Regions from separate parts of the Homo sapiens genome. Here regions 2, 3, 4, 5 and 6 are each linked to region 1. Evidence: fine-mapped expression QTL. A gene starts in region 1. Each other region holds a variant in brackets. All regions are shown on one strand. Distances are from middle to middle.

Region 1 (4,000 bases):
GCCCATCTCCACTTCCCCTCATACCATTTAGAAAATGAGTCAGATCTGTGAAGGAAGCATTTGCTAAGCACCCACTGTATAATGTGATGCTGGGCTGACACTCTCCAGGTGCAGAGGGGAAGATACAGCCTCTGCTGCAGTGGGACCCTGGCTGAGGGGGTCACACATCAAAACCCCACAAGAACACCCACTGGGCAAGAATCAAGAGGCATCAGCATTAGCACCATCACAGGGAACACAACCAATAACTGCATGGGACATAGGGACCCATGGAGAGAGCCGGGAGGCTCCTCAGATGAGAAAGGGCTGAGGTGAGGCATTGAAAGAGGACAGCAGACAAGGGGAGGCCAATCCTAACAAGAGGGCCAGCATCAGCTCAGGACTGGCAACAAAGCAGGAATGCGCAGAGCTTGTAAGAAGCCAGGAGAAGACTCTTGATAAGGAGCAGAAGAAAAGAATATAAGGTGGGGCTGAGCTGGGGTCCTTCAGTGCCAGACTGAACCGGCTGTCATAATAGGTGACATATTGTAATGTCCTGGAATTACAGAGAGGAGCCATGAAGTCGGGGATTTAGGAAAGGAGCCCCAGCGAGTAGGCAACCAATGTACATCAGAAATGATCAACATTCCCAATGTTGTCTACATTCACTTTTTTTTTTTTGAGATGGAGTTTCATTCTTGTTGCCCAGGCTGGAGTGCAGTGGTGTGATCTAGGCTCACTGCAACCTCTGCCTCCCAGGTTCAAGTGATTATCCTGCCTCAGCCTCCTGAGTAGCTGGGATTACAGGCATACACACCACCACGTCCAGCTAATTTTTGTATTTTTAGTAGAGATGGTTTCACCATGTTAGTCAGGCTGGTCTCGAACTCCTGACCTCAGATGATCTGCCAGCCTTGGCCTCCCAAAGTGCTGGGATTACAGGCGTGAGACACCGCACCCAGCCTACATTCAGTTTTAAGCACACACACAGGAAATTTATCTCCAGAAAACTTCGATCCACTTACCGGCCACCAGGCCATATCACGACCAGCGAGGAAGAAGCCTCCTATAGTACCTCGGTTGGTCTTCAGCATCGCCTGAGCAGAAGGGAAGACAGGTGAGGGTCAAGCCCCAGCAAGTGCACCCAGACACCCCAGAGGCTCTGGCCAGGGTGCTGAGAGGGGTGACTTCAGCACTCCTACAGAGAGAAACATTTCGCTGGAAAGTGTTCTATAGCATCAAATTTTAAAGGACTTCAAAAACAGTCGCTTTGTAAAAACCCAGGGCTGGAAGAACTTAAAAAAATCATAATCCTTAACTTCTATCTTAACTGCTCTGATTATTCTCACTTATGAAAACCATGTGAGGTATCATTGAGCCATGCTTGCAATAAAATTTGCAGTCTCGGCCGGGCACGGTGGCTCACGCCTGTAATTCCAGCACTTTGGAGGGCCGAGGCGGGTGGATCACAAGGTCAAGAGATCGAGACCATCCTGGCCAACATGGTGAAACCCCGTCTCTACTAAAAATACAAAAAGTTAGCCGGGCGTGGTGGCGCATGCCTGTAGTCCCAGCTACTTGGGAGGCTGAGGCAGGAGAATGGCGTGAACCCAGGAGGCGGAGCTTGCAGTGAGCCAAGCAAGCGCCACTGCACTCCAGCCTGGACGACAGAGCAAGACTCCGTCTCAAAAAAAAAAAAAATTTGCAGTCTCAAATTTATTAAAATAAAAAAATTCAACATAAATGAAGAGTCCAACTCACTAAATCAGAAAGTGAGCAAACAACAAAAGAAAGCGAAAGAAATGCGATAATAAAAATACACTCTTTGTCCATTATGCCAGGTGTTGGGGATGCATAGTAAATCTGAAGGTCCCGGTGCTGGCTGTGTGCACACGATGGGGTTATTAGGAGAATACATTAGTTCATTGTAAGCGTTATTTATGCAACACACAAGAAAATGATTCTGATAACACAATGACATTTGTGAAAAGCTTTGTCACAACCACACCCCTTCCCCCCTTAAGATACCCCCTCCTAAACCTTGTGCCCACCCTAAAAGCCACTGGGATTCCACCTACCCACAGCCCAACAGCCATCACCACCAGAAAATAGATGACAATGACTGAGATGTCAGCAGCATTTCGGATGTGGTCAGACAATGGAGGTGGCTCTGGGGTCTCAGCTATGGTGCTGGGGCTAACCGTACTGGCCATGGCTGCAGGCAGTGCTATACCCATTCCACGCATGAGCCATCTTTATATAAGTTCTGGGTTAATGATCAGCCTCAGGCAGGTGGGGCGAGATATCAGAGCCAGCTCCTGGATATGGAGACCTTTAAACCTCTTCTCCAAAGCTGTGGCACCCCAGCCCTCCACCAGTGAGTGCTAGCCTAGGTAGAGTGTGAGAATGAGGGATGCAGGGCCAGAAATGAGGGGAGAATTTGAGGTGGAGCATGGGGCGTTCTCTGAGTGCAAAGACAGGGTCTTTAAAGAGATTTGCCCAGGTGGAGGGGGGATTTGAGAGAAATGAAGACAGACAAGGAGGGGAGAAGGACAGACTAGAAGGTACCAGAAACCAGCCAGGAGGGACCGAATGCAATGGTCCTTCAGAGAACAGATACAGTTTCTGACCAATGAGCTATATCCCTTGACAGTGAAGTGAATTATGCCTTTCGTGGATTCCAAAGTCCCACATTTCTCTGAAGTGGGTTTCATGTGCCACAAAAAGACATTGGTGGCCTGTATAGGAAAGGAAGTGGCTCTTCAAGCACCATATGTGGTGAGTTGAGGGCAGAGCTGTGGAGAGCGCTGGGTCAGAGGGTTGTACAAAGAGTGAATCAACCTGGAAGCATGTGATGGGGATCATGAGGACTCAGGAAACAAGACTCCTGGACTACAGCCAAGAAGAAGTTAGAAGTAAAGCCTATGCGGTGGCTGACACCTGTAATCCCAGCACTTTGGGAGGCCAAGGAGAGAGCATCACTTGAGGCCAGGAGTTCAAGACCAGCTTGGGCAACATAGGGAGTCTTTGTCTCTATAAAAATTAGCTGAGTGTGGTGATGCACACGTATGGTCCCAGCTACTTGGGAGGCTGAAGAGGGAGGATCACCTGTGACTGGGAGGTCAAAGCTATAGTGAGCCATGATCACGCCGCTGCACTCTAGCCTGGGCAACTGAGCAAGATCCTGTCTCAAAAACAAACAAAAAAAACAACAACAAAAAAACAAAACCAAAAACACACATGAAAAAACGGAAAGCCCAGAAATTCTTCTTTTATACTTCATTTTTTATTGTGGCAAAGCATACATAGCATAAAATTTACCATTTTAATCCCTTTTAAGTGTACAATTCATTGGCATTAAGTACATTTACAGTGTTATGCAGCCATTACCACTATCCATTTCCAGAACTTTTTCATCATCTCCAAACAGAAGTATGTACCCACTAAAAACTAACTCCCCATCCCTCCCTCTCTCCAGGCCCTGGTAACCTCTGTTATTCTTTCTTACTATATAAATTTGCCTATTCTAGGTACCTCATACAAATGAAATCATACAATATTTTCCTCTTTGGTTTATTTCACTTAGTATGACATTTTCAAGGTTCATCCATATTGTAGCATGTATCAGAATTTCCTTCCTTTTTAAGGCTGAATAATATTCCAATACTCATATATACCACATTTTGTTTATCCATTCAACTGTTGATGGGCATTCAGGTTCTTTCTATACTTGGCTATTATAAATAATGCTGCTGAGAACACTGGTGTGCAAGGATCTGTTTGAATCCCTACTTTCAATTCTTTTGAGTCTATATGTAGAAGTGGAATTGCATGTGATAATTCTGTGTTTAACTTTTTGTAGAACTGCCAAACTGTTGTTCACAGCAGCTGCACTATTTTACATTCTTTCCACAGTGCATAGGAGAGTTAATTTCTCCATATCCTCTTCAATACTTGTCATTTATGTTTTAATTATAGACAGGCTAGTAGGTATCAAGTGGGTATCACAATATAGTTTTGA
Region 2 (4,000 bases), 78 kb after region 1:
GTGTGTGTATTGGGGGCTGTGTGTTGGGGGCTGTGTGTGTGTTGGGGCACCAAGGCACATTGTAGGTGCTCTGGGAGAGCCTCTCCCTGGCTGTTTGACTTTGGACACGTGCTTTGGCCTCTCTGAGCCTGAGTTTCCAGCAAAATGGCAAGAAAAACGCCGCTGGCGAGATGGCGGCACGGGGGAAATGGCCGTGCTCTGCAAACTCCCTCGCGCCCCAGTCAGCTCCCCTGGTCTCCAGGAAATACCAAAATAAAGATCCTGCTTGAGGACAATGAGAATTATTTTGTGCTTTATAGGGCGCCGCATAATCTAAATAATGACACACGGAAACTTTGTTTCCTTCAGGAAGAAGCTGGCGGGCAACCCAGCTATAGTAAAAGGCAAGCGGTGGGGTGGAGATGACAAAGCTATTTGGTGCCAGCTATGCCCAGCGGCTTCTGGCAGACAGGACAGTGCCTGCTGTGTTGCTGGAGCCCACGGATTGTACCTGGGATGGGGACGTGGGCATGGGAAGCAAGGGACATCGCAGGAGCGACAGGCGGAGGGCAGGACACGCAGCCCACATCCGAGGCCAGATCCCATGCCCCTCGGCTGCCCTGATCCTCTCGCGGCTTCCAGACCCCATTCGCCCTGGGGTTCCTCCTGCCACGGGTGGGGGCTGCTCCTCCCCAGGCCCATTGCAGTGGTCTCTCGGGGCATCTCAAACTCAAGACACTCCATGCTGCTGAGCCCAAAGCCACATCTGCCCCAAGGTCCCCATCTTGGAAAATCTCCCAGGCTGCTCAGCCCAGGGGCCCAGACATCCTCCTTGGACCCCCACCTCCTTCTCAGCCCCCACCCCAGGCCCTGGCCAATCCCATGGACTCCACTCCCTGGTGCCGGCCCCTCCCCACCACCACCCTCGGCCAAGCCGCAGACATGGCTGCAGCTCGTGAGACAGTGGCAGCCTCTCCGGTGGACTCCCAGCTCCCTTCCCAAAGGCAAGTGCCTCCTGTCACTCTCCTCGAGGGCACCCTTGTCCCTGGACTAAGAAGCCCACATCTCACCATGGCCCTGCACAGTCAGACCTACTTGCATCTGCCACCCGTCCCCTCCTGCACTTCCTCCCCCACACTCATGCCACCTGACTGCCCTTCAGATGGATGGATGTGCGGCTGTCTCTGCCTCAGTGCCTCTGCACATGCTATTTCCAGTGCCTGGACCACTTACTTCCCACTTCCTCCCCTGGTCTCTTCCAACTCCGACAGGCTCATTCCTTTCCATCCTACAGATCCCAGCTGCCCCGAGAGGCAGGGCCAGGCCATGGAAAGCTGTGGATGCCCAGCTGAGGGCCTGTCCTTATCCTGCGGGCCTTCTGGGAGTCTCTGAGGGGCTGGGAGCCTCTGCAGAGACAGGGCCGGAGGCTGCCCTGGCGTTGGGAGTGGGGTCAACAGGGAGCTGTGTCAGTTTTAGAGGCTTCCATTATTCACACCTCACTTGTAGCCTGCCTTCCTGTCGCTTTACCCTCCTGACGTTCAGACACTTCTCGGGGAACTTAGGGACTTTATACATCCCCATGGTAAAGGTTAATTTTTAATACTGCTTTGGTAAATATTTGATGCCACTGCTTTAACGGGAGGATGCATTAGACATTAAATACCACAAAGTGCTCTGAGATGCTGTCCTTTTCATCGGCAGCCTC[T/C]GTCCGTAACTCCTGCCTCCCACTCTGCGAAAATAAAGACTCTTTCTCCTTTGCCTCCTGCTATGAATTTTTCAAAGCGTTTTTCAAATCCATTCTTACCCCTGATCAGCATCTCCATTAGCCAGATAGAAAGTCAAAGAGGTTTTAAGCTGAGAGATGGCTTAGAAGCCTCAGTCCCTTCCCTCATCTTACACAAGGGGAAAGTGAGGCCGAGGAGGGACGTGGCCTGCCCGAGGTTAAACAGTGAGTCTGTGGGTGTAGGAGTGGAATGAGGTGCCGGGACTCCCAGCCCAGGACTCTGCTCTAGCACTGGCACCCCCCCCCCAGAAGACTCAGACCAGTCCTGCCCTCACCCAGTCCAGTGGAAACAGGCCACGGGGCTCTCTGACTGTGCTGGAAGTGGGCAGCAGGCAGAGGGGTCTTTTAGAGGATGGGGAGAGGCCTCCGGAAGGAGCATGACCTCAGTGAGGTTTTGAGGAATGAGTAGGAGCTCGCCAAGGGGCCAGAGTGGGGAAACCTGTGAGGTGAATGGGTGTAGGTAAGCACCTCAGGGCAGGGATGGGGACTGATCCACTCTGTATCCCCAGTCCTGGCCTGGGGCCCAGACTTAGCCCATGCTTTTTAATCCTTATGAAATGAATGTGTCCTTTACCTCCAAGGCTGTGTGCACTGTGGCCCTGATCATCGGCTCCTGGTCCCACAGGCCCTGGTGCCCTTGCATCTCCGTGCTTCCTTCAGCCCGGGCTCTGACCTGACCAGCTTCCATGCATTCTGCATTCCTGGCCCGCCCCTGATGCTGGGGCTGCTTCCCCAACGTCCTTTCTACTGCCCAGGACAGTAAACATCCACAATACACACACGTACACCATGCCACACAGACACCCACAATACACATAAACACACACACCATGCCACACAGATCCACACAATATCACACACACACACCACATAGACCCTCACAATATACACACACACACCACAGACACCCACAATACACATACACACACACCCCATGCCACACACCATGCTGCATACCCACAACATACACATAGACACACGTCACACACCATGCTGCAGACCCACAATATACACACACACCATGCAACACAGACACACTACACACACTACACCATGCCAGATACACCATGCACACACACACACCATGCCACAGACTCACACAATATACACACACTATGCCAGACAACACACACACACACATCACATAGACCCACACAATATACATATACACACCATGCCAGACAACACACACACCCCATGCCACACAGACATCACACAATGCACACACCATGCCACACAGACTCCTGCTCACCTGTGACCTGTCCTAGCCCCTCAGGACCCACCTCTGCCCTCTCCACCTCTCCCCTGGTGCTGGCGTCCCATGGTGGTAACAATGCACGACCCTGTGCCCAGCCCCGCCCCTCCAGCACTGTCCTTCCTGGTCAGCAGCAACACCACGTGTCTCTTGGTTCAGACCCTCGAGTTGTCCTCGTCCTCAGTGTGCCCCTCCAACATCCAATTCCTCTGTGGCTCCTGCCTGCACTACCTCCAAAATACTGCCTTGTGTCCCCCCACTGCCTGGGGCACAGTGATGGCCTCCCCCCGGGCCTCCCTGCCTCCATTCCTGCTGGTTGGCTGCTGTGAGCTGTGTGGTAGTGGCCTCTCACCAAAACCCCCACCTGACCAAGTCCCCGTGCTTCGCTGGCTCCATGTTTCCCTTAAACGAACGGAACCACTCTCCCATCTCGACAACCCTGCAGACTGGAGTCCCGAAGCTCCCTCCCTCTTGGATGCTGTCAACGGTGAGATGTCCCAGGGATTGAATCATGGCTTTGGGGAGGACGTCAGCGGCACTCCAGTAAGCGTACACACTGATCGGGGGACACATCTGGGCTTGAGGCCCTGAAGGGTGACAAGGACATGTCCCTTAGAAACAAGTGACAACAGTATTGGTCAGAGTCCAGGCAGGGACACAGCAGCCATGGCTTCATGGAATAGGGCATTTATGATAAGGACTTGAGTTTCCACACTTGTAGGAGGAGCTGGGCAGTGAAGGTCCAGAAGGGACCGTGGAGGCTCAGAGAAGGGACGCTCCGCAGTGCTGGGCAGGGAGAGAGCGGGGCCAGCTCGCATGGAGGCTGAAGCCAGGCCCATCCTGCCTCCAAGAGATCACAGGGAGGGTCACAGGGTCTGCCAGCCTAGGGTAGGTGGTCGGGAAGGAGAGCCAGACACAGATGGAAAACCCAAGGACACTGGGAGCCCTGGGACACCCCTGCAGCTGTGCTTCTCTGGCTCTGC
Region 3 (4,000 bases), 59 kb after region 1:
CCAGAGTTGCTTTGTCTTGGTCATCCTGAGGCCACAATGAGTCACCTCTCAGAAGCCACCAGCCCAAAACAGGACTATCGCTTGTGGACAGGTGGCTCAGAATCCCCTCCCCTGCACCCCCAGCCCCTACCCCTGAGTTTGCTCGTAATCTTAGAAGTCCGCAGAAGGGGGCTTTGGGCACAGGCAGCATTCCCTTCTCTACCACCTCGGCTGTCCCTGGCATCTCTGTAGAAGTTGTCCTTCTCGGAGGCTGCACTGGGTATTTCAGATCTCATCTCCCCCATCCTGAGGCACAGCAAAAGGGTTTTCTGGAGGAAATACAAGGAAAAAAAATATCACATGGTGTCTCCTCAATGGGGACTCACTGGGGACATTTCTCTCTGGCCTCAGTGCCAGAAGAATCCAGGTTTCCTCTGAACACATGGGTTTTGTCTTCTGAACGTTGTGAACCATGTGACTTTAAGACTGGAAGCGAGACAAAAATGTCGCTATCATTATAGCTCCATATAGTACTAGAGCTCTGGCTCATGCAATAAGGCAAGAAAAAAAAGCATAGACTAGGACTGGAATAGAAGAACCAAAATTACAGTTAATTGTGGATAACTTACATAGAAAATTTAATAGAATCAACAGGTTAATTAGTAGAATGGAGAGTGCATACATAGAGGTATAATAGTCAACCTGTAAGACATCAGATCAATTTATAAAATGCAACAGTGTGCATTGACCTCAGCAGTTACTAGGGTAATTATATGTCATGGCTTGGGACAGTCTCAGTTGACACTTGTTGTTCTGACATAATTTTTAATGTTGTTCCCCTTTTACCCTCAAAAGTATTCTGATTTGGATGATAAATTATACTGTCACCCTTGCTATAACAAACTAAATATTAAACACAGATACAGATACCATTCATACTGACAAAAACGATCCTGTATTTTGGAATGACACTAAGATATGACCATGACCATGTCATACAAAGCTATAGAGAAGATACCAAGATGCTCCTGGAATAGGGAAGAGCCAGGAGAGCAGTGGAACAAGATCTACAGTGTGGAAACAGGTCTGCTGGGCACTTATAGCTTTGAATGGCAGAGTCAAGTTGCAAACAAGACAATGAGGAAAAGAAATACAAACTCCATCTGTGGCAGGCAGCATGAACCCCACTGCCCTGTGTCTATTACAAGAGCAATTGCCCAGCCACAACTACTTACCTTCCCAGACTCCCTTGCAAGCAGGGGTGGTCACATGACCCAGTCTGGCCAATGTCATGTAAGTGGGAGTCTATTGGGAAGGGGACATAAATCCAGGGGAAGATGAACTATCTTGCATGCATGAGAATGAAGGATGCTCACTAACACAGGTGGAGTAGAAGGCAGGGAGAAACTGGGTTCTGGTGGCAGCCCTGGACTGCCCCCTCCACACCACTGCAGTCAAATTTCCTTTACTTGCATAAATTGCAACTGGTGACAGTTCTTAACTGATAAACCATCTTCAACCAAACTACATGTTTTTTGGGCAAATGGAGAAGTCAAGGGAGTGGCTCCGACAAAGCCAGCAAAGCCCACCTCCCCAGAGTGAGAGATACGCCAAGAAGGAGAACCTACTCTCCACTCTTTGCATCAGTGGGAATGTGTACAGGGGCTAAGGGTGAGAGATTCCGTGGGGCCATCTCCTCAGCTTCACAGAACAAAGCCAGGTACTCTCCATCACCGACTTTTTTTTCTCCATAGCACACACCTCTATCCAGCATACCACCTATTGTACTTACTTGAATAATTTATTGTTTGTCTTCCCCACATAGAAAGTTAGCTACAAGAGGGTTAAGGTGATTGTGTGTTTTACACATTGCTGCATTGCCAGGGCCTAGGACAGTAACTGGCATACTGTAGGGGCTTAATAATGTTTATCAAATAAATGAATGAACCAAGAATTTAAAGCCCAATGAACCATCTTTCAAATATAAAGTCAACAGAAAAACATGTTGAACATATTTTTGAATTATAGTTCCCATGACCCCTTCTTAAAAAAATTAAGGACACCCTTAGGCAAATCAAGAATGATTCAGAAAAGTTTAATGTAAAAGGATGGGCAGATGATTTTTTTAAAAGTTCTGTGGATAGATGGCAGTGATGGCTGCTGTATTAATCCATTTTCATGCTGCTGATAAAGACATACCCAAGCAATTTACAAAAGAAAGAGGCTTAACTGGACTTACAGTTCCACATGGCTGGGGAGGCCTCACAATCATGGTGAAAGGCAAGGAGGAGCAAGTCACGTCTTATGTGGATGGTGGCAGGCAAAGGGACAGAGAGAGTGAGCGAGCTTGTGCAGGAAAATTCCCATCAGA[C/T]CTCATGAAATTTATTCACTATCATGAAAACAGCATGGGAAAGACTTGCCCCCATGATTCAATTACCTCCCACTGGGTTCCTCCCATGACACATGGGAATTGTGGGAGTTACAATTCAAGATGAGCTTTGGGTACAGCCACAGCCAAACCATATCAGTTGCCCTACAGTGAGAAGGTACTTAATGCCCCTGAACTGTATACTTAAAAATGGTTAAAATGGTTATATGTTATGTGCATTCTACCACAATTCATAAAAAGGATGAGCAGAAGCATAACAAATGCAAATGAAGAGAAATCAGGGGTCAAGTTGTAAATGGAGCACTGCCAAGAGTGCCAGCAATGAGCACAGAATTTGTGTAACTGCAGGACTATTAAAGCCAATCTAAAGATTATGACCATCACAGAGAAGAATGAAACAAAACAGAACTGGCATAAATAATAAAAAGTAGGAGGGGTGGAGGTGAGAAGGAGAGAGGTAATACAAGTAAACTATGTCATATTCATATATAGTTGGAGGTCTAAATTATTGCTTAGAAGTCTAAGTAAAATTAGAGGCATCAAGGTAAACAAAAAATAATCAACTAAAATAACTTGATGGAAGGGAGACAAGAAGAGGGAAAGTAGAAATATTCTAATTTTGATATTGTTCACAGTAGGGAGAAAATAAGCGCTGTCTAGAGAAATAAAAGGATTAAAGATATCATGTCATATTATAATTATGAAGATAACCATGGGATCAAAAACGCAGCTTTCCAAATTATCAGAAGACATACACACAGAAAATAAAACAAAGACAACAGAGACCGTATGGTGAAAACTGACAACCCCCACAAAACTATAAAAGCAGAAAGCCTATCAAACAATGATGACAGAACTAAGACCAAATGCATCTGCCATATCTGTAAATGTTAGTGAGCCATACACACTTGCTTAAAAAAAAAAAAAAAAAAAAAGAGACTGGATCACAAACAAGGGCACTGAAGGTAGAATGATTCAGCAAGGTTTCATAGAAAAGGATGGGCAGGGCCGGGCATGGTGGCTCACACCTGTAATCTCAGCACTTTGGGAGGCCAAGGCAGGTAGATCACGAGGTCAGGAGTTCAAGACCAGCCTGGCCAACATGATGAAACCCCGTCTCTACTAAAAATACAAATAAATTAGCCAGGCATGGTGGTGGGTGCATGCAGTCCCAGCTACTCGGGAGGCTGAAGCAGGAGAATCGCTTGAACCCAGGAGACTCTGTCTGAAAAAAAAAAAAAAAAAGGGCAGATGATTTTTATAAAGTTCTGCAGGTGGATGATGGTGATGGTTGCACTACAGTGAGAAGTACTTAATACCCCTGAACTGTATACTTTAAAAATAGTTAAAATGGTAAATGTTATGTGCATTTTACCATAATTTTAAAAAAAGGATGAGCAGAAGCATAACAAACAAATGCAAATGAAGCTAAATCAGGGGTCATAATCTTAATATCAGACAAAGCTGAAGTCAGGGCAAAACATATTGAATGAGAAAAAAGAAGGGCACTGTGTGAGGGTGAAGGATGAGAGTCACCATGAAGATCTAACAGTAATGAATGTTCATGTACCAAATAGCATAGCCTCAATATTCATAGAGCAAGACTGGAAATTTAGGGAGAAAAAGCAGAGT
Region 4 (4,000 bases), 65 kb after region 1:
TGACCTCCTCTTCACTCTTTCTACTCACTCATGGACCTCATCTCTTCCCAAGGATTTAAACAGCATATGTTGATTTTTTTTTTTTTGAGATGGAGCTGGAATTTCACTCTGTCACCCAGGCTGGAGATACGCTGATGACTTTTGAGCCTCAAACTCTCATCTAAACTCCATTCTGATGGCCAACGTGTCTACTCGATGTCACCAAATTGATATTTAATAGACACCTCAAACTTAATATATCCCAAACGAAAATCCCAACCTTCCTCCCCCATCTAGCTTTTCCCACAATTTTTCTGACCTCAGGAAATACAACTCCATCCTGTCAGTTGCTCTCCTCAGAGGCCTGGAGTCATCTTTGACCCCTCTTTTCCTCTCACACTCCACATCCAACCCAGGAGCAAATCCCATTGGCCCTTCCTTTGGAATCTCAACAAGCCTTACACTTCCTGCTGCCTCCACCACTCCTACTGTGGTCCACACTAGCAGGATTCTTGCAGTGGGTGTCTGTGCTGGTCAGCCCCTTCCATCTGCTCTCAACACAGCAGCCAGAGAAGCCCTGTGAAAACCTAAGTCCAATTATGCCACCCCTTTCCTCAAAACCCTCAGTGGCTCCCAGATTCACTAAGAGTAGAAGCTAAAGCCCTTCCCACCCCATCACCTCCCTGTCCTATTCCTCACTCTTTTCCTTTTCATTCTCTCCACTCCAACGGTAATGGTTTGTTTAGTGTCAATTTGACTGGGCCACAGGGTGCCCTGATATTTGGTGGGATATTTTTCTGGGTGTGTTGTGAAGGTGTTTCATGATGAGAGGAACATGTGACCTGGCAGATGGAGGAAAACAGTGTCCTCCCCTGTGCAGGTGGCCTCATCCAACCTGCTGGAGACCTAAACAGAACCAACAAGTAAGGGGGAATTCACACTCTCTGCCTGCCTTTAAGTGGGGACATCGTTCTTCTCCTCCCTTTAGACTCAGGGTGGGACTGAAATTCACACCATTGGCTCTCCTGGCTCTCAGGCCCTTGACTCATAGTGGAACTCATGCCATCAGCTCTCCTGGGTCTCAGGTCCTCGACTCACACTGGAACTCACACCATGGGTTCTCCTGGGACTCAGGCCCTCGACCACACTGGAACTCACACCATCAGCTCTCTTGGGTCTCAGGCCATCGACTCACACTGGAACTCACACCATCAGCTCTTCTGGGTCTCAGACCCTCAAATCAAACAGGAACTCACACCATCAGCTCTCCTGGGTCTCAGACCTTCAAATCAAACTGGAACTCTCACCATTGGCTCTCCTGGGTCTCAGGCCCTCGACTGACACTGGAACTCACATCATCGGCTCTTTTGGGTCCCCAGCTTGCTAACTGCAGACCTTTGGATTCCTCAACCTGCATAGCTGCAGGAGCCAATTACCTACAGTGTGTGTCTTCATATGTGTCTATATGCGATTGGTTCTGTTCCTCTGGAGCACACTGACTAATACACCATCTGTACCAGCATGCTCCTGTCTCTTCTCCCAGATAAACCCAAGGCTGAATCCCTGATCTCCTTTAAGTCACCTTTTTAGTGAGCCCTTGGCCACATGTTTAAAATTATCCTTTACCTCAAATGCATTATCGCTGTCTAAAAGTCCATATATTTCACATAAACATTTTAAAAACTGTCTGCAGTCTCCATAAAAGCAGGCTTTTTGCTGCTTTTGGCCCATGACTATATCCCCAGGGCCAATAACGATGCCCAGCACAGGGTCAGCACTCAATTAAGATGAACTGAACAAACAGAAGAACAAAAGCGACTGCCTGCTCAACTCTACAGAAACCAGGAAGCCTCCAAGAAA[T/C]GGATCAATTTCCAAGAAAAGAGAAATTACCCAAAGGATCCGGGAAGGGAGAATCTAAACAGACCAGTTGCCAAGAAGAAAGAGAGAAACTGTCAAACAGCAAATCCAAACTCTAAAATAAGAGAAATGCAAATTAAAGCCATAATGAGAGAGGATTTCAGAGCGCAGACAAAAGGGAGCATCCGCATTCCTTCACTTGCCACCCTGACACTGATCAAAAGGGCTGAGCACCCAATGCATTTGCTGGTTTGGGTTTCTGCTTCACTGCTGGTGGGGGGGATGCTGGGGTCATTTCTTTGGAAGGCAATTTGACACATGCCTACGGTACAGATGCCCACATCCTCTGACCCAGCAGTCTCACGTAACGATTATCCTACAGACATGCTCACAAGGGCAACATAGGTACAAGCACATTCATCACACAAAGGTGGGTCACAGCAGAAGATTAGGATCAGTGAAGTCTCCATCAGCAGGATGCCAGGTCAAAAACAACAGCTCCTGCACAATGGAGAGCCATGCAGAGACCAGGCAGGCTTGGGCAGCTGTCCTCAGCCACCTCCCATGCTCTGCTTTCCTTTCCTGGGTGTTAGTCATTGAGATTCATGATTTGTGGCATTAATGCCACTTACACGCTGAGCCCTCTGCCCTGAACCTTAGTCTTGAATTCCCACCCTTCCTCCCCTGGGCAATTTCTGTACTTTCCGCTCAATTTTTCTGTAAACCTAAAACTGCTTTAAAAAAAATCTATTCATTACCTAGATAACAAAATTCGTAAGACAGTGAGATGTCACTTTAAATCCATCAAATCGGCCAAACTTAGGAGATCAGATGATTTGAAAGGTAAGTGAACACCCGCGAAGGGGACTCACCACCATGCTCTGTGGACGATCCGGCAACCTCTCTCTGTGTACTTCCCAAAGAAGCCCGGGAGCTGGTCTTCAGGGGCAACCCGTCACCTTCCTAGGGAACTGCATTAGCATGAGCTGCTTCTTTTTAAGAAACGTTTAAGGCCGGGCACGGTGGCTCACGCCTATAATCCCAGCATTTTGGGAGGCCGAGGCAGGCGGATCACCAGGTCAGGAGTTCAAAACCAGCCTGACCAACATGTTGAAACCCCATCTCTACTAAAAACACAAAAATAAGCTGGGCATGGTGGCGTGCACCTGTAATCCCAGCTACTCAGGAGGCTGAGGCAGAAGAACTGCTTGAACCCAGGAGGCGGAGGTTGCGGTGAGCTGAGATCGTGCCATTGCACTCCAGCCTGGGCAATAAGAATGAAACTCCGTCTCTAAATAAATACAAAACTTAGCCAGGCATGGTGATAGGCACCTGTAGTCCCAGCTACTTGGGAGGCTGAGGCAGGAAAATCACTCGAATCCAGGGGGTGGAGGTTGCAGTGAGCTGAGATCGCGCCACTGCACTCCAGCCTGGATGGCAGAGCGAGACTCTGTCTCAAAAACGAACACAAATCTTTTAAGTTCAGGGGTACACGTGCAGGACGTGCAGGTTTGTGACACAGCTAAATGTGTGTCATGGGGGTTTGTTGTACAGATTATTTCATCACCCAGACATGAAACCTAGTACCCATTAGTTATTTTTTCCTGGTCCTCCCCCTCCTCCCACCTTCCGCCCTTCAGTGGGCCCCAGTGTGTGTCCTTCCCCTCTATGTATCCATGTGTTCTCATCATTTAGCTCCCGCTTATAAGTGAGAGCATGTGGTATTGGGTTTTCTGTTCCTGTGTTAGTTTGCTAAGAATAATGGCTTCCAGCTCCATGCATGTCCCTGCAAAGGACATGATCTTGTTCTTTTTTATGGCTGCATAGTATTCCATGGTGCCTATACAGTCTTCCATACAGTTCTCAGAAGTGAGGGTGCAAGAGCGCCTATGGCAGAATGCATAGGTCTTGCACATAAAACGTTGGGTCAAAGGTGAGAAATACTATACATGACAAGTGAAAACACTTCCATGTTCCCAGCATTGTGCATAATTTGGGCATCACACTCAATTAAGATGAAAGAGTGGGGTGGACGGAGTAGGCTTGGAGGGTGGGAGAATGGGCAGGTACAGTAAGGGACCCATCACAGCCACTGATGTTGGAGCTAGGGACCAGGAGGTGTGACCAGCTCAACATTCTAGACCTAAGGGTTGGAAACCAGAAT
Region 5 (5,141 bases), 98 kb after region 1:
AAACATTATAATTCCACATGATCCTCCCCTTCCTTTTCCTGTTGCAACGATGTGATGAACCAAATTTGCTTATGCAGATGACAATACTCTCAGAAAATGGTGGCAGAGAAATAAAATGAAGGGAATATGGTTCTCTTAATGATCTCATACACTGGAACTTATTACCTCCATGCCTCTTGCCTATCTCCAGACTAATATGGGAGAGAGAGAAAATGGCTGTTTGCAACCAATATTTTATTTGACGCTTCATTTTTTGATTCCCCAAATAACTACTTACAACGAATTAACAGGATATGAAAGCACAGCTACTCAAGAATCTAAATAATTATCCAACTGATTTTTTCCTCATCTCTAAAACAATAACGGACCGATCATTTTTAAAATACAACACACTGGGCCGGCGAGGTGGCTCACGCCTGTAATCCAAGCACTCTGAGAGGCTGAGATGGGAAGATCACAAGGTCAGGAGTTCAATACCAGCCTGGCCAACATGGCGAAACCCCATCTCTACTAAAAATACAAAAATTAGCCGGGCACAGCAGTATTCGCTTGTAATCCCAGCTACTCAAGAGGCTGAGGCAGGAGAATTGCTTGAACCTGGGAGACAGAGGTTGCAATGAGCAGAGATCACCACTGCACTCCAGCCTGGGCAACAGAGCAAGATTCCGTCGGGGCGGGGGTGGGGGGCGTGGGGGGAGGGTGGGGGCGGTGGGGGGAGGGCGGGGGGGGGGTGGGCGGGTGGAATACAATGACAAGTCGTCTATTTTTAACTCAGTTTTGGACTGTTGTTTGTTAAGGCCATTGCTTGTGATAAAGAAAACAAAGGGAGGAGGAGGAGAAACAAGAAAGGACACAAGAAATAGAAGCAGCAGCATAAGAAAATGAACAGGAACAAGAAAATGATGATAAGCAGAAGAAAAACCAGGCTGGAAAAAAAGAAAAAGAACAGGTAAGAGAATCAAGGAGACCTATTATACATTTTGTCCCCTTCCTGATTCATGAAATTTAAAAAAGTCCAAGAAAATGTGGCACATATGCACCATGGAATACTACACAGCCATAAAAAATGATGAGTTCATGGCCTTTGTAAGGACATGGATGAAGCTGGAAACCATCATTCTCAGCAAACTATCACAAGGACAAAAAACCAAACATCGTTATGTTCTCACTCATAGGTGGGAATTGAACAATGAGAACACTTGTACACAGGAAGGGGGACATCACATACCAGGGCCTGTTGTGGGATGGGGGGAGGGGGGAGGGATAGCATTAGGAGATATACCTAATGCAAATGACGAGTTAATGGGTGCAGCACACCAACATGGCACATGGATACATATGTAACAAACATGCACGTTGTGCTCATGTACCCCAGAAATTAAAAAAAAAAAAAGTCCAAGACTACCCTGACAAAAAACCAAGCAAAATGATACACAAATAGTTACCCCCCAAACTTCTGTTAATAACATAATGGTGCCACTCACACCTGACTCAGGTGCCAGCAGGAGGAGGGCGCCCTCCAGATTCTGCAGGAGATGCGGGGAAGACTCCTCCTTCCCCTGGCTGCACCTCCAC[C/T]GCTGTCACAGAGGCCCACAGCTTCCTACCCACCCCAGGCCAGGCAGGGCTGCCCCCCAACGCTCCGACCTGCCTTCCCGGCCCCCAAACTTGCTGCTGCTGCTGCCACAACTAGCACCGATGCTAATACAACTACTACTGCTGTCACCCTCAACGCACAGGCCCACCCTACAAGGCTCCTAACACCTGACCACTGCACTGCCTGTGCCCTGGCGGCAGCCAGCCGCCATCCTACCGCTCTGGTGCTCTTCAGTTTTCATTGCCGCCCTCCTACCACTCCAGCGCTGAGTCTTTAGTCTCCATGGCCGCCACCAACCACAGCGAGGCGAGCGGTGGTGCCACAAGCTCCAGCCTCCAGCAGGCGGCTCCTCCTCCTGGCATGAAACAACTGGGCAGGCAAAGCCAAGAAAGCCTAGAACAGGATGCAGAGAGTGGTAGCGTTAGAGCCTCACCTTGGCATGCTGGCCACTGGATGGCAGAGGCCGGTTTCAGCGAAGGCACTCACGCCCACCCTCCAAAGTCCAGCCTCTCCTTTTGGCCCAAGTTGGCCAGGAACTAGGGCCTGGAGTGGGGACTGGAGACACCACAGTGCCCGGGCTTCCTACTCTACTAGAACCGCTGGGCCCACCCTGGCTGCGTTCCTCGGGAAGCAGGAGCAGCAAAAACTGAACCCCAGCCAGCCCTCCCAACCCTAGTGCTGGTTCCCGTTCCTGACGCCTCCACCCACGGGGCCCTATCACCCCGTAGTGTCAGCTACTGCGTGCCCGGGGGTCCCAGGCAGTTTCCGCAACACATAGAGGGCGCGGGCCTGGGAACCACGGCTGGTCTAGGTGACGGATTGTGCTCAGGATCCCCGCGGAAACGCTGTGCATCCGCCGCGCTCCAGCAGGAGGAGATGGCCCTCTAGAGTCTGGAGTCCGGGGAGACGAGGACCGCTCCTCTGACCACCCGTCACTGACACCACCAGCACCAGGGGGGCAGCGCAGCCCCCAACAGCACCCCTAACCCGCCGCCGGCAGTGTAGCCCCCAGATAGCGCCTCCAACACCTCACCCCCAACCACCGGCAGTGTAGCATCCAATGGCGACCCCAACCTGCCCTTGCTTCGGACACTGCAGCACCCAATGGCGCCCAGAACCCGCCCCCTGCCGCGGGCAGTGCAGCCCGGGATAGCGCCCCCAATCCGCTCCCTGCCGTACACAGTGTAGCCACGAATAGTGCCCCCAACCAGACCCCTGCTGGGGGCAGTAATGCCCTGATATGGCACCCAAACCGCCCCCCAACTGCGGGAAGTGCAACCCCGGATAGTGCCCCAACCTGCTCCCCACTGGGAGCAGCAACCCAGGGAGACGCCCCAACTCACTCCCTGCCTCCGGCAGTACAGCCACAGATAGCGCACCCAACCCACCCCCTGCGCGGGCAAGGTAGCCCCCGATAGCGCACCCAACCCGCCCCGCCGGAACCAATGTGGCCCCAGGTAGCACACCCACCAGCTCCCTGGCACGCAGTACAGACCTCTGATAGCACCCAACCCGCCCCCTCCCAAAACGGGCAGTGGATACGTCCCTCAATAGCGCCCCCAACCAGCCTCCCACCCCCTCTACACGGGCAGTCTGGCCCCCAGTAGCACTCCCAATAAATCCTGCTATCTCTGTCTCAGTGTAGGCCCCAGAAAGCGCCCTCAACACCCCCCTCCCTGCTGCCAACAGTGTAGCACCCTGTAATGAGCCTAACCCGTCCCCCACCACAGCACTGCAGCCCCAGATAGTGCTGCCAACCTGCTCCCTGCTGTGGGCAGTGCAGCTATGGATAATGCCCCCAGCCAGCTTCTAGACGCAGGCAATGATGCCCTGGATATAACACGTCCCGCCCACCGCAGGCAGAGTAGCACCCGATAGCGCCCCCAACCCGTGCCTGACAAGGGCAATGCAACACCCGATAGTTCTTCCAACTCGCCCGCCGGCCACGGCCACTGCATCCCCAGATAGTGCCCCCAGAACTCCCCACTGCCGCTAGCAGTACAGCTTGGGATAGTGCTCCAACCCACCCCCAGCCACGGGCAGCGCACACCCGATAGCACCCCCAACCCACTCCCCTCTGTGGGCAGTGAGGCCCCAGATACCACATCCAACCAGCCTCCTAACACGGGCAGTAACGCCCTGGATAGGGCCTCCAACCCACCCCACCACGCCACGCCACAGGCAGTACGGCCTGGGATGGCGAACTTTTCCCACCACCATTTTACCATTCTGGCTGCGCTCTAGTCTCCCTGGCCCGCACCAACGGCAGCAGCGAGGTGAGCCACGGCAGGCTCCAGCCTCCACTGTGCTAATGAAGTTGCTCCTCCTCCTTTTCCTCTAAGCTTCCAGACTCCAGTGTGCTCAGGAAGTGACTCGTTTTCTTTTTCCTCTAAGCCAGTACTAACCAGCTACACAAGCTGACGCAGGAGAGCTTGGAATGACAAAACTCCCCCCACTTGGCATCATTTATATATGAGAATTTATGCAAATGAAGTTCCTGGGCTACATGTTCTGATTGGATGAGGAAAACCTCTAGGCCTACTCTGATTGGACTTTGTTATCATGTTCTGATTGGTTGTCCTAAGACTTGCTCTCATCCAATCAGAACATGCAAATAAAGCCCAATCAGAGTAGATCTAGAGGTTTTTCTTCTCATCCAATCAGAATATGTAGTCCAAGAACCTCATTTGCATAACCTCGGTAAGGGGAAGTCTCAGTTCCAGGCTCTTCTAGGCTATGTTCTCTGTCTCCACACCTTCCTCTCAGACAGCAGCTGGAGCCCCAGAACCTGGGAGCCTCACAGAGAAAGTCCTGATGTGGGACCTGGTTTTCCACCCGAGACCCAGGATCCAATAAAGAAGTGTTTCCATAAATGATGCATCCTCCAAAGAAGGCCAGTGACTTTCTGTGCCAAGTACCTGACAGAATTGCCATTTCCTAGAGCTGCCAGGCAGCCCTAGGTGCACAGGTCACCTGTGCATGTGTCAGAGACCAAATCCCATCAATATTGAGGCCTTGGTTAAGACAGGTACTTGCTTTTAGTCGTGAAAAGATGCCTGGCTTTGGCAGGAGAATCGCTTGAACCTGGGAGGCAGAGGTTGCAGTGAGCCAAGATTGTGCCACTACACTCCAGCCTGGTGACACAGCGAGACTTTGTCTCAAAAAAAAAAAAAAAAAAAGAAAGAAAAGAAAAGATGGCTGGCTTCAACACTGAGAAAACCAACTCTCCTTGAGCAAATGCTTTGCATATTCTCATAGAAATAAGGGAACACCTATTACCCTCCTTGCACTGCTTCCTGCACAGCTGGGATACTACCTTTCACAAGCATCCTGAGCCACCTGCTGGCCTTTTGTGTGTGTTTCCTTCCTGGCTTCCTCCCATTTTTTTTTCCATCTCTGAACCTGCTGTAAGGTGAAGAATTGAGGCGGGCCCCAAATGTAAGACCTCATGAATTTGACGATGCAACAGTGTCCTGGACAGCCTGGCTCTCAGGGCTGGGGAGCTGGGCAGAGAGAAAAGAGGGCATTCCAGGGGCCAGGGAGCTCC
Region 6 (5,141 bases), 180 kb after region 1:
AAAACGTGTGTGTGTGTGTGTGTGCGCGCGCGTGTGTGTGTGTGTGTGTGCTTTTGGACAGGGTCTTGCTCTGTCGCCCAGATTGAGATCATAGCTCACTGCAGCCTCGACTTCTTGGGCTCAGGCAATCCATTCACCTTGGCCTCCCAAAGTGCTGGGATTACAGGTGTGTGCCACCCTGCCCGGCCTCTCATGGGCTTTTAAAGTATTGTGGCTCTAGGCACTGTGCCTATTGTGCCTAAAGGAAGCTAATGAAGAAGTCAGGACTGCTTTGAAGGGCTTGGTAAATGCGAGTAAACCTTCGTAAAACCTTTTCTTTCTGGGAAACCATACTACTTTAAACAAACAAACAAACAAACAAAACATTGTATTTCTGGGCATGGTGGCTCACGCCTGTAATCCCAGCACTTTGGGAGGCCGAGGCCCCAGATCGCCTGAGGTCAGGAGTTTGAGACCAGCCTGGCCAACATGGTGAAACCCCATCTCTACTAAAAAATACAAAAATTAGCCAGGTGTGGTGGCAGGCGCCTGTAATCCCAGCTACTTGGCGGGCTGAGGCAGGAGAATCACTTGAACCCGGGAGGCGGAGGTTGTAGTGAGCCGAGATCGCACCCCTGCACTCCAGCCTGGGTGACAGAGTAACACTCCATCTCAAAAAAAAACAAAATTATATTCCCTTTGTTGGAAAAACAATATACTTACAAAGAAAATTTTAATGAAAAAAGAACCCTCTCATAATCCCATATCCTAATACAACTCTTCATTTTCAGTTTTGTGATTCACTTCCTTGTCCAGATGCAAAGCTATTTTCCTCTTCCGGATGCAAAGCTATTTTCCTCTTCCAGATGCAAAGCTATTTTATACAATTAACAGCTGTTGTGTTTGTGCAGTTTTGTATTCTGTTTTTTCCATTTAACATAATTTTCTTGAAAACATTTTCCATGTTTCTTTTCTTTTTTTCTTTTTCTTTTTTTTTTCTGAGATGGAGTCTCGCTCTGTCCCCCAGGCTGGAGTGCAGTGGCGCCATCTCGGCTCACTGCAAGCTCGGCCTCCCGAGTTCACGCCATTGTCTTGCCTCAGCCTCCCAAGCAGCTGGAGCTACAGGCGCCCGCCACCACGCCCAGCTAATTTTTTGCATTTTCAGTAGAGACGGGGTTTCACCATGTTAGCCAGGATGGTCTCGATCTCCTGACCTCATGATCCGCTCGCCTCAGCCTCCCAAAGTGCTGGGATTACAGGCGTGAGCCATGGCAACTGGCCTTTGTTTTTTTTTTTTTTTTTTTTTTTTTTTCATGAAGTCCCGCTCTGTTGCCCAGGCTGGAGTGCAGTGGCGCAATCTCTGCTCACCACAACCTCCACCTCCCGGCTTCAAGCAATTCTTCTGTCTCAGGCTCCCGAGTAGCTGGGATTACAGGCACATGCTACCATGCCCGGCTAATTTTTGTATTTTTAGTAGAGATGGGGTTTCACTATGTTGGCCAGGCTGGTCTCGAACTCCTGACCTCATCATCTACTTGTCTCGTCCTCCCAAAGTGCTGGGATTACAGGTGTGAGCGACCGCGCCTGGCCATTTTCCATGTTTCCACAATAGACTTCATAACTACCACGTTGACTTGTGATTGATTTACTCCCCCTCTGCTGGTTTCTCAGATCTTTTCTGACTCTGCTTACGTCTGTTTCATTGCTTCCTTTTCTTCCATACATTTAGTCTATGCCGTCTAATCTTTCTGTAAATTCTCCCCCCAGGTAGTCTGATGGATGACTTCAACTACCAGCTTTATAGGGCTGAGGAAAATGGGCTTTGCAGACGGTTCTGCCGAATGGCACTTAGTGGTCAATGATCTGCGTCTGTGGCCTGCACATGGCCTTTCACCGTGTGTCACATGCATTTGACAGTCAGACAGGCCATGGGGAAGATCTTGTTAACTTCTCTGTTCTAGTAATGGGATCAGATGGTCAGAGTCTGAAGGTACCTTAGGCATGATCCAGTTCAACTTCCTTATTTGCAGATAAGGAAACTGAGGCTCAAGGAGGTTAACAGACTGGATCACAGTCATAGAGCCTGTGAATAAGGACTGGAAACTTGGTTCCTTAACTCCCAAAGCTTTATGCTCTTTCCTCACTAGCATGCTCTATGAATTTGATAAAGAAGAACTGAAGTTTATATTGCTGTACCATTAGAATGTACACTTCTATTACAGAATTATATATATATTCTTTGTATGTTTATATAAAATAAATAAAAATAAAATATAGGAAATAAATATAATATATAAAACATAATATATTTTATAAAATGTTTTATATAAATATAAAAATATATTTATTACATATGTAATATTTTATGTATTTAATTTGTATATGTATATAAAATATATAATATAAAATATGTGAGAGAGATATATTTTTTTGAGAGACAAGGTCTCATTCTATTGCTCAGGTTGGAGTGCAGTGGCACGATCATAGCTCACTGTAATCTCAAACTCCTG[G/A]GCTCAAGCAATTCTTCCCTCTCAGCTTCCTGAGTAGTTGGGATTACAGCGGTGCACACCACGCCTAGCTAATTTTTAAAAAAGCTTTTGTAGAGATGAGGTCTCACTTTGTTGCCCAGGCTGGGCTCAAACTCCTGGCCTCAAGCAATCCTCCCACTCCCAAATTGCTGGGATTACAGGTGAGAGCCTGTAAGATGGCACCTGACCATATTACAAAATTATATTTATAATTATTTTGTTCCCTATTTTATTTTTATGTTACTATAATGGAAAAAAGAAAAGCTTGACAGTACCATTTTTAGTAAAGTACATACTTTAAAGTTATCTGGCCCATTACAGGAGAGGTGCTTAACTGACTCATGTTCACACAATGGTTAACGTCCCTTTTTTTTTTTTTTTGAGACAGAGTCTCACTGTCACCCAGGCTGGAGTGCAGTGGTGTGATCTTGGCTTACTGCAACCTCTGCCTCCCGGGTTCAAGCGATTCTCCTGCCTCAGCCTCCTGAGTAGCTGAGATTACAGATCACTTGTTTTCTTAATGGTCACTTTGTCTCTGATCAGTTGACTCACTTATTACTAAGGTGCCCCAACAGTCAAATTGATTGATCTTACCTGTTCAGAGACAAGGAGCAGACCAGTCTTTGTCCCAAAATAACCAGGCCAACACTGGTACTAGCAACCTATAGACAATAAAAGCATTTATTATTAAGACGAGTGAGTGTCAATTTTGGCCATCAGTATAATTTCCAATAGTTGAAACATTATAAGCCCAACATTCCCCCTTAGTGTAAAGACATTGGAAGTCTAAAAGACATTGGAAATACAGACCTCTGAAAATCCTGTCTTGTAGTTAGGGAAGCTACCTGCAAAGACTTTTTGTTTGATGATCTCCTTTGAATTTTTTTTTTCTCCTAATCGCTCTTCTTTATGTATGTGTGTGTATGTGCCTATGTGCGTATGACATTTTTGTTAGGTTTATTATGTCCTTCTATCAGATTGCATTTGGCCTTCATTTGCTCAAGTAAAAATGAATTCTACCTTGATTGACTTATTTAGATTAAAAAAAAAGAGAGAATTCCAGCTGTCCATGTAACTGAGGTAGGTGGTGGGAAGAGCGTGCATGAAGTAGAGACTGGAGAGATTTTACAATGTATGAGAGTGTGAGTGCTTACCTCCCATCCTGCCACACATACCCTTCCCTCAACTCTGACCTCACTGAGACAGGGTCTTACCCTGTTGCCCAGACTGGAGTGCAGTGGTGCAATCATAGCTCACTGTAGCCTCAAACTCCTGGGTTCAGAGCAACACTTCCACCTCAGCCTCCTGAGTAGCTAGGATGACAGGTGCACAACACCACCACACCTGGCTAATTCAAACAATTTTTTTTTTTTTGGAGAGATGAGGTCTTGCTATGTTACCCAGGCTGGTCTCTAACTCCTGGCCTCAAGCAATCTTCCTGCTTCAGCCTCCCAAGACACTGGAATTATAGGCATGAGCCATCACGTCCAGCCTCCATCCTCACTCTTAATCAATGTAGCATCCCCACCCTCTTCAAACGTTTAAAAGCTGCTGGCCAACAGTCCACAGCAGGAGCAGGATTGGCATCTACAGGCTGCTCCACTGTCTCCCCAGACTTACGAAGTCCATGGAAACGATGGTTTCAACTGTGGAGTTCTTGGGTTGGGTGAGCATCATGATGGAGGCAGGGATGTCCAGGGTGAAATTGCCTGGTTGTAGATTGATTATGGGAGGCTCTGTGGCCATGATCCTCACCATGAAGGGCTGGGACAAGATGTAGATCTCTGCAATCTGCCCACATTCCGAGAAAGAAATAAAGATTGTGAGGCGTGAGTTGGTGAAGGGAGATCACAAGGTTAGGATGGCCTGTGGTGACTAAATCTTACATTGTGCAGTTAGAATAGAAAAAAAGCTCTTTAATAATCATAATTACACACAAAAATCAAACGATGATAACAGTTGGCAGTTACTGAACATAATACTTGATACTACCCACTGTGCCAGGGGCTTTATATATTATCACATTTAATCTTCAGAAAATCCCTGTGAGGCAGATTCTATCAGCATCCCTGTTTCATAGTGGAGAACGTGAGTCTTACAGAGGTTAAATGATGTTCTCAAGGTTCTAGGGGAATAAGTGGTAGAATTGGGATTCAAATCTAGGTCTGGGCTGGGCACAGTGGCTCATGCCTGTAATCCTAGCACGTTGGGAGGCTGAGATCGGTGGATCACTTGAAGCCAGGAGTTTGAAACCAGCCAGGGCAACATGGAGAAATCCTGCCTCTACAAAAAATAGAAAAATTAGCTGGGCATAGTGGCTTGTGCCTGTAGTCCCAGCTACTTGGGAGGCTGAGTTGGGAGGATCACTTGAGCAGGGGAGGCGGATATTGCAGTGAGCCAAGATCGTGCCACTGCACTCCAGCCTGGATGACAGAGCGAGACCCTGTCTCAAAAAACAAACAAACAAAAACAAATCTAGGTCTATCTGACTCAAGATCCTTGCTCTAGAACCAGGATGCTACATGAACATCTCTTTGTCCTCAAGGGCAATCCCTAGCCCGTAGGTTCATTATGTTCAATACTTAGTGTGCTACGAAGGCACAATATTAACAGTTGCTTTTTACTACAGTTACA

Direction of the effects. Positions count from the first base shown, and alleles are read on the strand shown. Sizes are in standard deviations (SD) of each study's normalised expression. Not every link is listed here.
For the expression in iPS cells of the gene that starts at base 2,210 in region 1, T is the high allele of the variant in region 4 and C is the other (moderate effect, 0.54 SD a copy in HipSci).
For the expression in lung of the gene that starts at base 2,210 in region 1, G is the high allele of the variant in region 6 and A is the other (moderate effect, 0.44 SD a copy in GTEx).

The links.
Region 2: its variant is fine-mapped to the expression of SLC5A4 in subcutaneous fat (FUSION, PIP 0.95).
Region 3: its variant is fine-mapped to the expression of SLC5A4 in atrial appendage (GTEx, PIP 0.96).
Region 4: its variant is fine-mapped to the expression of SLC5A4 in iPS cells (HipSci, PIP 0.91).
Region 5: its variant is fine-mapped to the expression of SLC5A4 in visceral fat (GTEx, PIP 0.96).
Region 6: its variant is fine-mapped to the expression of SLC5A4 in lung (GTEx, PIP above 0.99).

What each region holds. Positions count from the first base shown.
Region 1 is chr22:32,253,138-32,257,137 of GRCh38, forward strand. It overlaps SLC5A4 (solute carrier family 5 member 4), which reads right to left and starts at 2,210. Exons shown (of 15, transcript NM_014227.3): 1 at 2,058-2,210; 2 at 1,005-1,076. The coding sequence starts at 2,192. All of the region lies in intron 2 of SLC5A4-AS1 (SLC5A4 antisense RNA 1), which reads left to right.
Region 2 is chr22:32,331,198-32,335,197 of GRCh38, forward strand. All of the region lies in intron 1 of LOC107985561 (a long non-coding RNA gene), which reads right to left. It also overlaps a transcript of SLC5A4 not described here. Among named protein-coding and RNA genes, the nearest start is that of RFPL3, 25 kb to the right of the region's middle. The variant T/C (reference allele first, on the strand shown) is at 1,685.
Region 3 is chr22:32,312,513-32,316,512 of GRCh38, forward strand. It overlaps a transcript of SLC5A4 not described here. Among named protein-coding and RNA genes, the nearest start is that of RFPL3, 43 kb to the right of the region's middle. The variant C/T (reference allele first, on the strand shown) is at 2,351.
Region 4 is chr22:32,318,159-32,322,158 of GRCh38, forward strand. It overlaps LOC107985561 (a long non-coding RNA gene), which reads right to left. Exons shown (of 2, transcript XR_001755500.2): 2 at 1-4,000. It also overlaps a transcript of SLC5A4 not described here. Among named protein-coding and RNA genes, the nearest start is that of RFPL3, 38 kb to the right of the region's middle. The variant T/C (reference allele first, on the strand shown) is at 1,840.
Region 5 is chr22:32,351,028-32,356,168 of GRCh38, forward strand. It overlaps a transcript of SLC5A4 not described here and a transcript of RFPL3 not described here. Among named protein-coding and RNA genes, the nearest start is that of RFPL3, 4.3 kb to the right of the region's middle. The variant C/T (reference allele first, on the strand shown) is at 1,576.
Region 6 is chr22:32,428,246-32,433,386 of GRCh38, forward strand. It overlaps BPIFC (BPI fold containing family C), which reads right to left. Exons shown (of 17, transcript NM_174932.3): 12 at 4,128-4,298; 13 at 3,102-3,169. Among named protein-coding and RNA genes, the nearest start is that of RTCB, 19 kb to the left of the region's middle. The variant G/A (reference allele first, on the strand shown) is at 2,490.